Linked DNA regions of Homo sapiens. The protein of the gene in region 1 interacts with the protein of each later gene in a pairwise test. Each region holds a gene or a part of one and is shown in the gene's direction. Other genes may lie near its edges.

Region 1 (3,746 bases):
GGACCTGAAGCAATTGGTTGAGAATCCCTGAAAATTCTCTTGGGCCTATCCCACATCAAAAAAAAATCACCTAACAGATAAGTCAGGCTCCAGGCAAATTTCCACCAAGAAAACCTGTTTCTTGGTTCTTAGGCCATCACATGCAGCATTACTCCCCGCTGGTGGTCACTGAGTGTGACGCAGTGTTGTTTGTTGCCTACTCCAGGTCTGCTGCTGGAACTAAGAGGCAAATAAGGAAGGACGCAGACATGGAAACAAATACAGTAGTGTGGTGGTGATGTGATAGAAGCAGCTGTGGAGCGCTGTGGAGCAAGGAGGGGCACCCAGCACAGTGGGCTCTTGCATTTCGCAGTACCTAGGCTGTAACTGGCAGGTGGTACCTGGGCAGAGGGAACAGCCTGTGCACGGACACCAAGGTGCATGCCGAGTGCGGCACCTTCTGCGATGGCAGGAGGTTGAGTCTACGGTGTGCATGATCACTGACTCTGCTTCTGACTAGTTATAATTTCACCTGAGAAAGAACTTTCGCTGCAGACTTGGATCTTGCTGTTTCCTTTGCAAAGGAAATGGTTCCGTTCAAGGCTTTTCTTTTCACAGAACTGATACTAGAAAGTAAAGTGTAATTTTCAAATTATTTAGTCCTCTGCCCAATTTCCCCAGTATGTGGTGTGGTCTCAGCCAGTCTGCCTTTCCTGTCCTTCACTTCCAGGAACTTCATGACTTTTTTCTGTTTTTTGTTTTTTTTTTTTTTTTTTTTTTTTTTTTGAGACAGAGTTTTGCTCTGTCACCCAGGCTGGAGTGTAGGGGTGTGGTCTTGGCTCACTGCAACCTCTGCCTCCTAGGTTCAAGCGATTCTCCTGCCTCAGTCTCCCAGCTAGCTGGGATTACAGGCGCCTGCCAACACGCCTGGCTAATTTTTGTATTTTTGATAGAGACAGGTTTTCGCCATGTTGGCCGGGCTGGTCTCGAACTCCTGATCTCAGGTGATCCGCCTGCCTCGGCCTCCCAAAGTGCTGGGATTACAGGTATGATCCAGCGCCCTGGGCCTTTCATGACTTTTTTTTCAAAACTGGAAGGGCTTAGGATACCTTGCAGATAAGAATCTGCTTTTATTGTGGCTAAGCAGATTTGAGTTTCATCATGAACGTTCTATTCTTTTCTAACTCATTTGTTCTCCCTACACAAGACACTGAAGTATAATAGAATACCAGGAACAGATATTTCAGGTTAAGATCAATTCCCTTAAATTGGAGTTTGCCAACCTGGGCACTGTTAACACTTTGGGTCTGATAATTCTGTTGTAAAAAGTAATACCTCGCCGCTAAGTTGTGACAATCAATAATGTCCTGAGACAGTGTCAAGAGGGGAGACAAAATTAGTTGATGCAGAGATTTTTCTCCTAAGCAGTGAGTTGTCTCTAACCTTTCAGTGTTGCTAAAAAAGAACTCTGGGTGTGGAGTGTAGAAAGGCAAGACTAAATAGCCATATTTCCAAAATTGGCTGGGGTAGGGGAAGTGACGCCAGAGGAGGGGAAGAGGAACTTTCGTAACATAGTCTTGCTTTTCTTTTTTTCTTTCATATGAAGAAATATACATGAACAAAACACATAATAGGTTTTCCCTCAAAAGTTATCTTCCTTGCGAGGCCTTTTCTGCTTTATTTTCCTCCTTAGCACCTGCCATCATCTCTGAATATTCTGCACAGTGCAGAGGCAGCCTTTATGTGAGGGACACAGCACCTGCATTCTCTCCATGTACCTGCACAAACTCCAAAGTCCATGCTTATAGTTTAACTTCTGGAGTCTGAGGCTTACTCATCCTTTAAGCTCAGACAGGTTTCTGAACCATTTCATGTCTTCAAATATTGACCACAGAATGGGGATGAGCATTTGATTTAACGAGTGTTGTTATTTGCACACAGCTCCGGCACTGGTTTAATGGCAGTGTGGGGACTCAGTGCCAGGTATCTGCAGCCCTGTGTTTCTGCTGTGTGGAACGGTGCTACTTGAGTTTCCTGTTGTTTTTTTTCCCCAGTGGAAGCAAAAGCCTTTGCATGTGTACTGAGAGCATGGGGTAGAAAAAGCTCGTTGGGAAGGGATCTCTAGAGACTTGGCCTTTAGGTTGATGTATGTGTTCCCAGATGGATTTAGTACCTGAGAAGCAAAGCACCTGGTTAATGTATGATTTTAAGACAGTACCTGCCAGAATATCCTGGCTCTTAGGCCTTCCTCTCTCCCTAGTTCCTGTCATTTGTGGTTAAACAGTGCTAATCTCTTTCTAATACTTCAGAATACCCTTGGCTTTCTCAGTTTCTCTTGTTTTTTCCCAAAGTGGAATAGGATACTGCCCATGCAAAGAGAGGGAATTTGCGAGCACCTGGGGCCAGGGCTTGCTGGGCAGCTGTCTGGCATCATCTCGCCTTCTTGGACTTGGCTTTCTAAGTCTCCACGTGGGAGCAGTTGGCAAAGAGCCTAACAGTAGGCTGAGCAAATATTTGTTCTTTCCTATGTTCACTGTCACTTAATCTAATTGTTTGGATTAGAAAGCCAACTTCAGTTGCCCCTGCTCTATTCACCCCCGCCACCGCCCGCCCCCCGCCAAGTTTGTTTTTCATCTCTTTTTAAATTCCAGCTTCCTTTGAGCAACTGCCTCTGCCCTTTGAACCCTGCTGCAGATGTTTCCTCTGAAGGGGCTTTCAGAGCGGCAGGCATTGCCACTCCAGCACTTTGTCTGATTAAAGGCCAGAGGCTGCAGAACAAAGGCCAGACATGGAGTCCTGGGTGAGTGTTTATTCCCTGGCTCCTCCTGAATCCCAGCAGTCATCCTTAACAGAGCCACTTCCGCCCTGCCTTGTCACTGGTCAGGGGCAGGCCTGCCATAGCTCTGTGGCCTCCTATATCCACTACAGATGATGGTGGCTGCTTTGAGAGGATGATGTGGAGGTTGTGAACTGAACTCTGAGAAATAGAATCTAGTACCTTTGACCTTTATTATTTGTTCAGCATTACTCATGTCACTGACAGTATATGTCTGCATATCTTTTCTCCTATGATGTGTCAGTAATGAGGAGACATGGGGACTAGTTGAAGGAGTTCTGTAAGATGAGGTCACAGAGAGCTGACCCTCCCTTTCTGAGAGTCTCATGAAGACAGGGTGGCTCAGGGACAAGTTCACGGTGGAGAAAATTGTGCTTTGCTTTTGGAAAACTTACTGTTGCAAGTGTGTACTTTAGTTACCACGTTGGAAGTTTCCGTTTTTCTTAGTCATCATTTGCAACTTCTGGGTAAGCGTGATAGTGACTCTTAGTCATCGTAAAGAGGAACGTCTTGTTGGATAAGCACATCTGAAAGACCAACCTTTGGGATGGCAACTCTTGAACTTTTCCAGCTGGAATGGTTCTGCCTCTAGTAAGCTTTGCTGAGTCTTTAATTTAAAGGCTGACATGTAAAAAGCAATCACTGTAATAAAGCTGGATAAGAAGAATATGACATAGCTAGGCATGGTGGCTCACACCTGTAATCCCAGCACTTTGGGAGGCCGAGGCGGGCGGATCACCTGAGGTTGGGAGTTCAAGACCAGCCTGGCCAATGCGGAGAAACCCCATCTCTACAAAAAATACAAAATTAGCCGGGCGTGGTGGTGCATGCCTGTAATCTCAGCTACTCGGGAGGCTGAGGCAGGAGAATCGCTTGAATCCAGGAGGCGGAAGTTGTGGTGAGCCGAGATCGTGCCATTGCACTCCAGCCT
Region 2 (3,746 bases), on another chromosome or scaffold:
AAGTTTCTGTTTTTTGGCTGGTTTCCTCTGTTTACTTCTTTGGCCTTTTTGATGACAATTCAGCCCTTCCTTTTCTTGACCCACAGGAAGAGGTCAAGAGCTATTGGCCTCCACCCTTTTGTTCCTCAGCACCAACCCAGCCCCCTTCTCCAATCTCTGCTTGGTCCTGCCTAGCAAGGAATCCCAGCACTTTGGGAGGCTGAGGCGGGGGGAATCACATGAGGTCAGGAGTTCGAGACTAGCCTGACCACCATGGTGAAACCCTGTCTCTAATAAAAATACAAAAATTAGCTGGGCCTGGTGGTGCATGCCTGTAATCCCAGCTACTCAGGAGGCTGAGGCACGAGAATCCTTTGAACCCGGGAGGCGGAAGTTGCAGTGAGCCGAGATCGAGCCATTGCACTTCAGACTGGGCGACAAGAGCGAACCTTCATCTCAAAAAAAAGAAAAAACAAAATAGTGCCCTAAGCCAGGGGTCAGGGAGAGGTTGCGCAAGAAACCAAGGAGACCCTTGGGAGCAAAAGAAAGGTGAGTGGGGGTGGAGGGTTGAAGGTCGGGCTGACTGTCTTACCTCTCTAGGTCTTGGGTGGTGCCTATGATGAGTTCATCTTTGCTCCTCGGCTGGACAATCTGCACAGCTGCTTCTGTGCCCTGCAGGTGAGGAGCCGGGGCGCCCCAGGCAGCACATAACCACCAGCAGAGGTGGTATGTTTGGGGTCGGGGGAGCTGCCTAAAGCCCCAGCAGGTTGTGAGAGAGGGCCATTGTCTACCCGCTCAGTCTGCTGGTGCTGGATGGACCAGGAGGGGGCCCTAAATGTTGCAGCCTCAGCATCGCCACCTTTGGTCTCTGCCCTTGCACTATCAGGGTGTTGAGGCAAGAAGAAGGAGGAGAAGTTGTTTCAGGCACCATGGTCTCTTGTCCTAGCCTTGCTCCTGCTGCTTTTCCTGAAGTTAACAACCTCTGCCTCAGGGAAAGGCTTTATCATCCACAAGGCAGTATCATCCACCTCCTTCTGCTTCCTACGCCACTCCCCAGGCTTAAGACCCCAGCCTTCTCCCTGTTTCTTGGGATCTCAGTCAGGTAGCCTCTCTTCCTAGTCACCTTGATATTCCCCACCTTCTCTCCACCCTAGTCAGTTCCCTTTCTTTCTCTCCTCTTGCCCTTGATCTCCCTCTGCCTTTTTCTGCCTTTCCTTCCCTGTAATCCTGTGGCTGGAGATAGGCTTTGGGCTGTAATTGAGACCAGAGCTGGACCTGGGACCTGCATCTACTTCTGCAGGCAACCAGCCAGTCATGTCACCTTGATGGAGTCTGTCACCTCTTTGAACCTCAGTCTTTTCCCTGAGGCCAATCAGTTTATGTGATGTGTGTAGCCTTTTGGCTTTCCAGGACTCTCAGCTCTTCCTCTCTGTCCTCCACATCTTCTACTGCCTTTTGCATGGGAAGGTAGAGAACAACACCCAAAGGATGGTGTCTCCTGTCCCAGTTGAAAAGGTTTCTACCTAGCTATTGATCTGGCCAAAAAAAAAAAGAAAGAAAGAAAAAAAGAGAAAAAAAAGGTCCTCACCACACCTTAAAGGTTTCTACCTATGTAGCTATTTATTTGGCAAGAAAAAAAAGGTCCCCACCACACCCTCTGCCAGGCAGTGCCCTAATTGATAAAAGTCATGGCCATGGAAGGCAGACAGGGGAATGTGCACACCCAAGGTGCTGGTGGATGGGGGAGCGTGCACACCCAAGGTGCTGGTGGGCTGAGTTCCAGCAGAAGCAGGTTGGAGATGATGCTCTCATTTCCTTCCCTGAACCAGGCCTTGATAGATTCCTGTGCAGGCCCTGGCTCCCTGGCCACAGAGCCTCACGTGCGCATGGTCACACTCTATGACAACGAAGAGGTACGTGGAGGGTTCTGGGGAGGGTCACCTCTGCGGAGTCTTCCACAGCCAACTTGTTGTGCCAGGCATCCACCGTGAGCCAGGGCTCTTCTGGGGGCCCCAAGACAGGGGAGATGCTGCCTGTGCCTCCTTAGCACTTGGTGTCTCCTCTGACTCAACATAGATCTGCTTATTCGAGGGTGACCGTCTCTCCTGTATCTCTCTTTGTGCCACATGGTGAGCTTCTTCCTTTAGGACAGGGACTCTACCCAGCCCATCCTCGTAGCCCCAGGGCTCAGCACAGAGTAGGTCCTCATGATGCCTGCGTGTGTGAGGCTGCAGTCTCAGCTGCATAACAGAGCTTGAACAGCTAGTGCTCTCTCATGTAACAACCCAGGTCAGAGTTAGCAGTTTAGGAGGGGTCCCTGCCGTCCTGAACACATGACTTCCATTTCAGGATTCAGGGTGGCCGTTCCAGCTCTGGCCATCATGTCTACACTGAGTTAGTAGGAAGGGAAGAGAGGGCAAAGGGGCAGTAGACACCCCCTGGCTTTAAGGGCATGATCCAGAAGTGACATTCATCACTGCTTACATTCCACAGAACTTAGCTGCAGGGGAGCCTGGAAATGTCATCTCTAGCTGGGTAGTTAAGTGCTTAGCTACAACTTGGGTGTTCTAAAAGATATCATGGACAGTTAGCAGTCTCTGTCATACACATAAAAGAAAATTGACCAGTGTGGTGGGGCACCTGTGCTGAGCCCCAGATGTGAGGGTCACGAGAGGAGGAAGGGGAGCAGTGCAGGAAACCCACCAGTACTGTTAAGAATGTGAGTTAGTTTGGTCTCAGCCCACTGTCTGGTGTTCAGTGACGACCCCAGGTTAGGGGTGTTGCTAAGAACACCCAGTGACTCAGTGGGGTTTTGGGCCAGTTGGGCAATGGGCCCCTCTCACTGGCTTCCAAGATCAGGCCCCTAAGCCCAGATTCCCAGAGTCAGGACTCTACTGTCGCCAGGTGGGGTCTGAGAGTGCACAGGGAGCACAGTCACTGCTGACAGAGCTGGTGCTGCGGCGGATCTCAGCCTCGTGCCAGCACCCGACAGCCTTCGAGGAAGCCATACCCAAGTCCTTCATGATCAGCGCAGACATGGCCCATGCTGTGCATCCCAACTACCTGTGAGTCTCTAGTGCCAGTCACACAGTCTTCACATAGCTGGAGACCCAAGCATAACCTGCCTTGAGGCTCTGCCTTGGCCCCAGCCTCTTCCTTTCTCCCTTCTTCATTCTGCCGGGAGGTTCACGGGCACTTCCTTTTCACTACTGCGAGACCAACTTGGTCAAAGTCATGCAATGCCTAACCCAGGTGTGTGGAATACACCTTTGTCTACAAACTTGTTTCCATCTATTGCTAGAGGCTGCCCGGAACCCTGTGTGTGGAATGACTCTGAAGTCCCACTGGGCTGGGCGGGAAAGAGTGGTGATCTATTAGTGATGTCTGCCATGGGAGGGTGGTGAGTGTCGACAGGCCTGCTCCTGTTTGCTATGTCTGGCCCTTATCTGTCTCTTACAGGGACAAGCATGAGGAGAACCACCGGCCTTTATTCCACAAGGTGAGACGTGCCATTTCTCCCTAGGGACTTGGAGGTCTGGCTGTTCCGAGCGCCGACTCATTCCCTTTGGGCCTGTCATTACCTCTGCCTCACCTTGACTCTCCCCAGGGCCCCGTGATCAAGGTGAACAGCAAGCAACGCTATGCTTCAAACGCGGTGTCAGAGGCCCTGATCCGAGAGGTGGCCAACAAAGTCAAGGTCCCCCTGCAGGTGAGGGTGGGCCCTGCCTGGGAAGGTGTGATGGAGGGAGCTTGGTGGGGGCACAAAC
Region 3 (3,746 bases), on another chromosome or scaffold:
CACAGCACGCACATTCACAGTGGCTGAGCCCATTTTGATACAGTCTGGTCTAACCACCTTGCCTGGCCCTCTTTCAGCTATCTTGCAGGTTTACATCGTTTCAGTGACTCCGTATGTCACCTCTACCATTTCTTTTCTAATTATTATTTGCTGAATAATCCTAAACCAGGTCTACTTTTTCTAGATAGGGCATAAAAGTAAAAATACAATGGATGGGCATTCACTGTGTTATGCCAGGCCCCGCATTTGGGGCAAGACACTAAGGATACCAAGATAAACCAAGTCCGTCCCTCCTGGAGTTTGCTTGCAAATCTAGCAGGGAAGATAGTAAACAAGCAACTGCAAAGGATATGACACATCTCTCTTAGGGAATGCTGGCTGCAGAAAGAACACAGCATAGGAAGATTTAACCTTAAACTGTTTAATGAAAACAGAAATTTAAGTAGCAGCTCTTCTAATCAAATGTGATGGCGGGAGAAAGGGAGTGCAGAGGTGTTGCAGGCAGACACTAGGTATGAAGGTCAGCATTGCCGTGCAGAAATCGAACCGGTGCTAAAGATAAGGAGGGGTGGGGGCACTCAGGACCCAACACACGCAGGGGTTTGTTAGCCATATTAAGTGCTGGGTTTAACCTAAGGGCAAAGGACGAGCTTTCTAGACTTTCATTTCATAAAGATCCCTCTGCCTGTGCTGTAAAAAGTGGACTGCAAAGGAGCAGGCGGGTCTGGAAGTGGAGAGACCAGGGAAGAGGCTGCTGTGGTCAGACGGCTGAAATCAGAGATAGAGAGACGCGGACAGATCTGGCAGACATTTACAAGGTCGACAAGGCTTGGCGACTAAGCAGGAAAAGAAGTGGGTGGGCGAGAGGGGGCTGCGAACGATGTTTTCCGGTTTCCTGCTTGGGTGCCACTTACTGAGAATGGGGGAAGAGGCAGGTGCAGGGCACACCCACCGAAAACCAGAGCGCCGAGTGTGAGCAGGGCTCGCTAACTCCTCACGGCCTGGGATTTCAAGGCGACGCCAACCAGCTGTGGCCACGGATACACAGCCACAGGTATGAGCTGCGAGCACTCACGAAACTCTGCAGGGCCGAAAAGGAATTGGAGTTTAAACCCTGCAACTATCTCTCTGGAAGAGCTAAACCACATTGTCAACCCGGGATAATCCAGGCCCCAGGCATGGAAGGCAGCAGAGACGGAAGCCTCGTCCAAAATTGGAAGGATCAGCCCCCAGGGCGAGTATCTCACAGTCAGCACCCGGCCGCCCCAGCCCTCGCAGCACCGCTTCCCGGGGCCACTCCTCCGCCGGCGGTAGCGCCGTCCGTTTCCCAGCTTGCCGCTGCCTTCCGCCGCCTGACCCGGCCTTCCGGCACTCGGCCGGCCGCCAGGTCTCCCGCCCTCGGAGCTCGGTGCCCCGTGCCCGACCTCCCGGCCCCGGGCTCGGTTCCCCTGGCCAGGCCTCCCGCTGCCTGGCCTCCCCGGCCCGGCCTCGCGCTGCCCGGCCTCCCCGGTCCCAGCCCAGCCTCCCGCCCCCGGGCCAGGTCTCCCCTCCGATGACCTGAGGCCTTTCCTTAGGTTACCCCCAGGTCCCTCTCCCTAAATCAAAAGCCTTAACCCGCTGCCTGGCTTCCCCGGCCCCGGCCCAGGCTCCCGCCTCCGGGCCAAGTCTCTCGCTCCGCGGGCTTCACTGCTCGCCCCCGCCCGGGCGAGGTGGCAAAACAAACACTCCGCCTTCCAGACCGGGCAGGTACCCGGGCGGGCGCAGGGCCTGGGAGAACGCAGGGAGCGGGGGCAGGGCTGACGGCCCGGAGCGAGGGCGGCAGTCACCGCACAGCCTCCTCATACCTTCTACAACCGCCTCACAATAGCACCCATCCGCTAGGAGCCGCGTCTGCACTGCTTCCGCGGCCCGCCGCCGGGAGATGTGCTCCAGCGCCAGCCCCGCCTCCCGCCCGCCCCTGTCGGCCCCTCGCGCCGCCTCCGCTGCGGCCCGTCCCCTAGCTCCCGCCCGCCCGAGAACCCAGCCCCAGGCTGGGCCCCAGGAGGCGCCCGCCCACCGCAGCGCGCCCCGCCCCCGCGCCCCGCGTCCTCACGCCCTGGTCCCGCCCTCGCGTCCCGCGCCAGTCCTCCCGCTTTGGTCCCGCCCTGAGGCTCGGCCCGGCTCCCCCGCCCCGGATTTGAAATCTAGGTCTTCCTGAGAGTCCGCGGGCTTCCGCTCCCAGCGCGGGATTCTGGAGGGAAATTGAGGGAGACTTGGAAACCGCGCCAGGCCCAACGGGTACCTAGAAGGGAGACAAAGCCAGGCCTGCTGCCCAGTTTGAGCTCTGGGAAGAAGAGGAGCAGGCCGGGACGCCCACCGGTAATTTCTGTCTCCTCTGCGATGACCTGAGGCCTTTCTTTGGGTTACCCTCAGGTCTCTCTCCCTAAATCAAAAGCCTTAACCTCCTGTCATCAGGGTGCCAGGCTAGAAATAACCAGGTCCACGCATGCTGTGTTTTCCACCATGTCAGGCTGCTGTGGACGCTCTTTCGATCACAAAAGCCACGAGCTGCGTGGAGTTCCCAAGGAGGCAGTTCTCAGCACTTGCTGGTCACTGGGTAGTCAGAGCCTGACACACAGGCTCAAGCCGCTCACGCATCATAGTAGTGTACTTAATCCACATATAAATGTTACAAGTTAAGCATCCCACAACAAAGTAGCATTTAACATCATGAGGAAAAAGAGATGGGGCAAAGAGATTAACGAACCAATCCAGAGGGAGTGAAGAAGAGGAAAAGAAGCCTGGTTTGGGCCGAGAGGTCCTTCTGCAAAGACGGCGTCAATTAAGCCGGCTGTTGGGAGCTGCCGAAGGCCCCATCTTTTATAGTCACAGAGTCCTGTGGTGAGAACTGGTAATGGAAGAGAGTGCTTGTTTGTGTCCTTACCTGGCTGGATGCGGACTATTTTTTTATTTGTTTATTAAAGTATAGTATGCTTGTTGGCAAATGCCTTATGAAATGTAAAAATGGGGTCTTCTCCTAAGATGGAGTTATTAATGGTTACGTCAATGGTGTGCTATATACACTGCCCTACCGATCCCCTTCCTATTTTGGGTCGTGAACTCATTTCAGACCCTGAAGCAAACTGTGAATCATTTTCGCAGAAGAATTCACCAACACATGTGAGCACGACATTCTGCATCAGATTTCAAAAAGTTCTTGACATTCAGAAGTCAGATTCAGGGACCCCATGGCAGAGCCTGTTTCTAACACTTGCGCCTATTCGACTATAGGGACTATATTCTGCACAGAAATATACTTAGTTTTATATATGGTTACCCCTTGCTGAGTTTATTGCATGCTTTTACATTTTCATAATACATTTGTTTGTTTCAGCCTTTCAACAATCCCTCGGGATAGGAATTCCAATTTAAAGAGGATAAGGTTTAAAGAGGTTAAGGCCGAGTTTAAAGAGGTTAAGTCCCGGCGCGGTGGCTCATGCCTGTAATCCCAGGACTTTGGGAGGCCGAGGCAGGTGGATCACGAGGTCAGGAGTTCGAGACCAGCCTGGTCAAGATGGTGAAACCCTGTCTTTACTAAAAATACAAAAAAAATTAGCCGGGTGCAGTGGTGGGCACCTGTAATCCCAGCTACTTGAGAGGCTGAGGCAGGAGAATCGCTTGAACCCGGGAGGCAGAGGTTGCAGTGAGCTGAGATTGCGCCACTGCACTCTAGCCTGGGCAACAGAGCAAGACTCTGTCTCAAAAAA

What was found.
Region 2: the proteins of MPP1 (region 1) and DNPEP interact in binary tests that used the Homo sapiens proteins (3 or more experiments, as listed by UniProt).
Region 3: the proteins of MPP1 (region 1) and PRIMPOL interact in binary tests that used the Homo sapiens proteins (3 or more experiments, as listed by UniProt).

What each region holds. Positions count from the first base shown.
Region 1 is NC_000023.11:154,798,778-154,802,523, reverse strand, and holds part of MPP1 (55 kDa erythrocyte membrane protein), read left to right. Parts: intron 1-2,630; exon of another isoform or gene 2,631-2,767; coding exon of another isoform or gene 2,768-2,779; intron 2,780-3,746. UniProt on the Homo sapiens protein: Essential regulator of neutrophil polarity. Regulates neutrophil polarization by regulating AKT1 phosphorylation through a mechanism that is independent of PIK3CG activity.
Region 2 is NC_000002.12:219,381,277-219,385,022, reverse strand, and holds part of DNPEP (aspartyl aminopeptidase), read left to right. Parts: intron 1-579; coding exon 580-657; intron 658-1,808; coding exon 1,809-1,892; intron 1,893-2,883; coding exon 2,884-3,044; intron 3,045-3,438; coding exon 3,439-3,478; intron 3,479-3,586; coding exon 3,587-3,688; intron 3,689-3,746.
Region 3 is NC_000004.12:184,647,551-184,651,296, forward strand, and holds the start of PRIMPOL (DNA-directed primase/polymerase protein), read left to right. Parts: upstream 1-2,187; 5' UTR 2,188-2,358; intron 2,359-3,746. UniProt on the Homo sapiens protein: DNA primase and DNA polymerase required to tolerate replication-stalling lesions by bypassing them.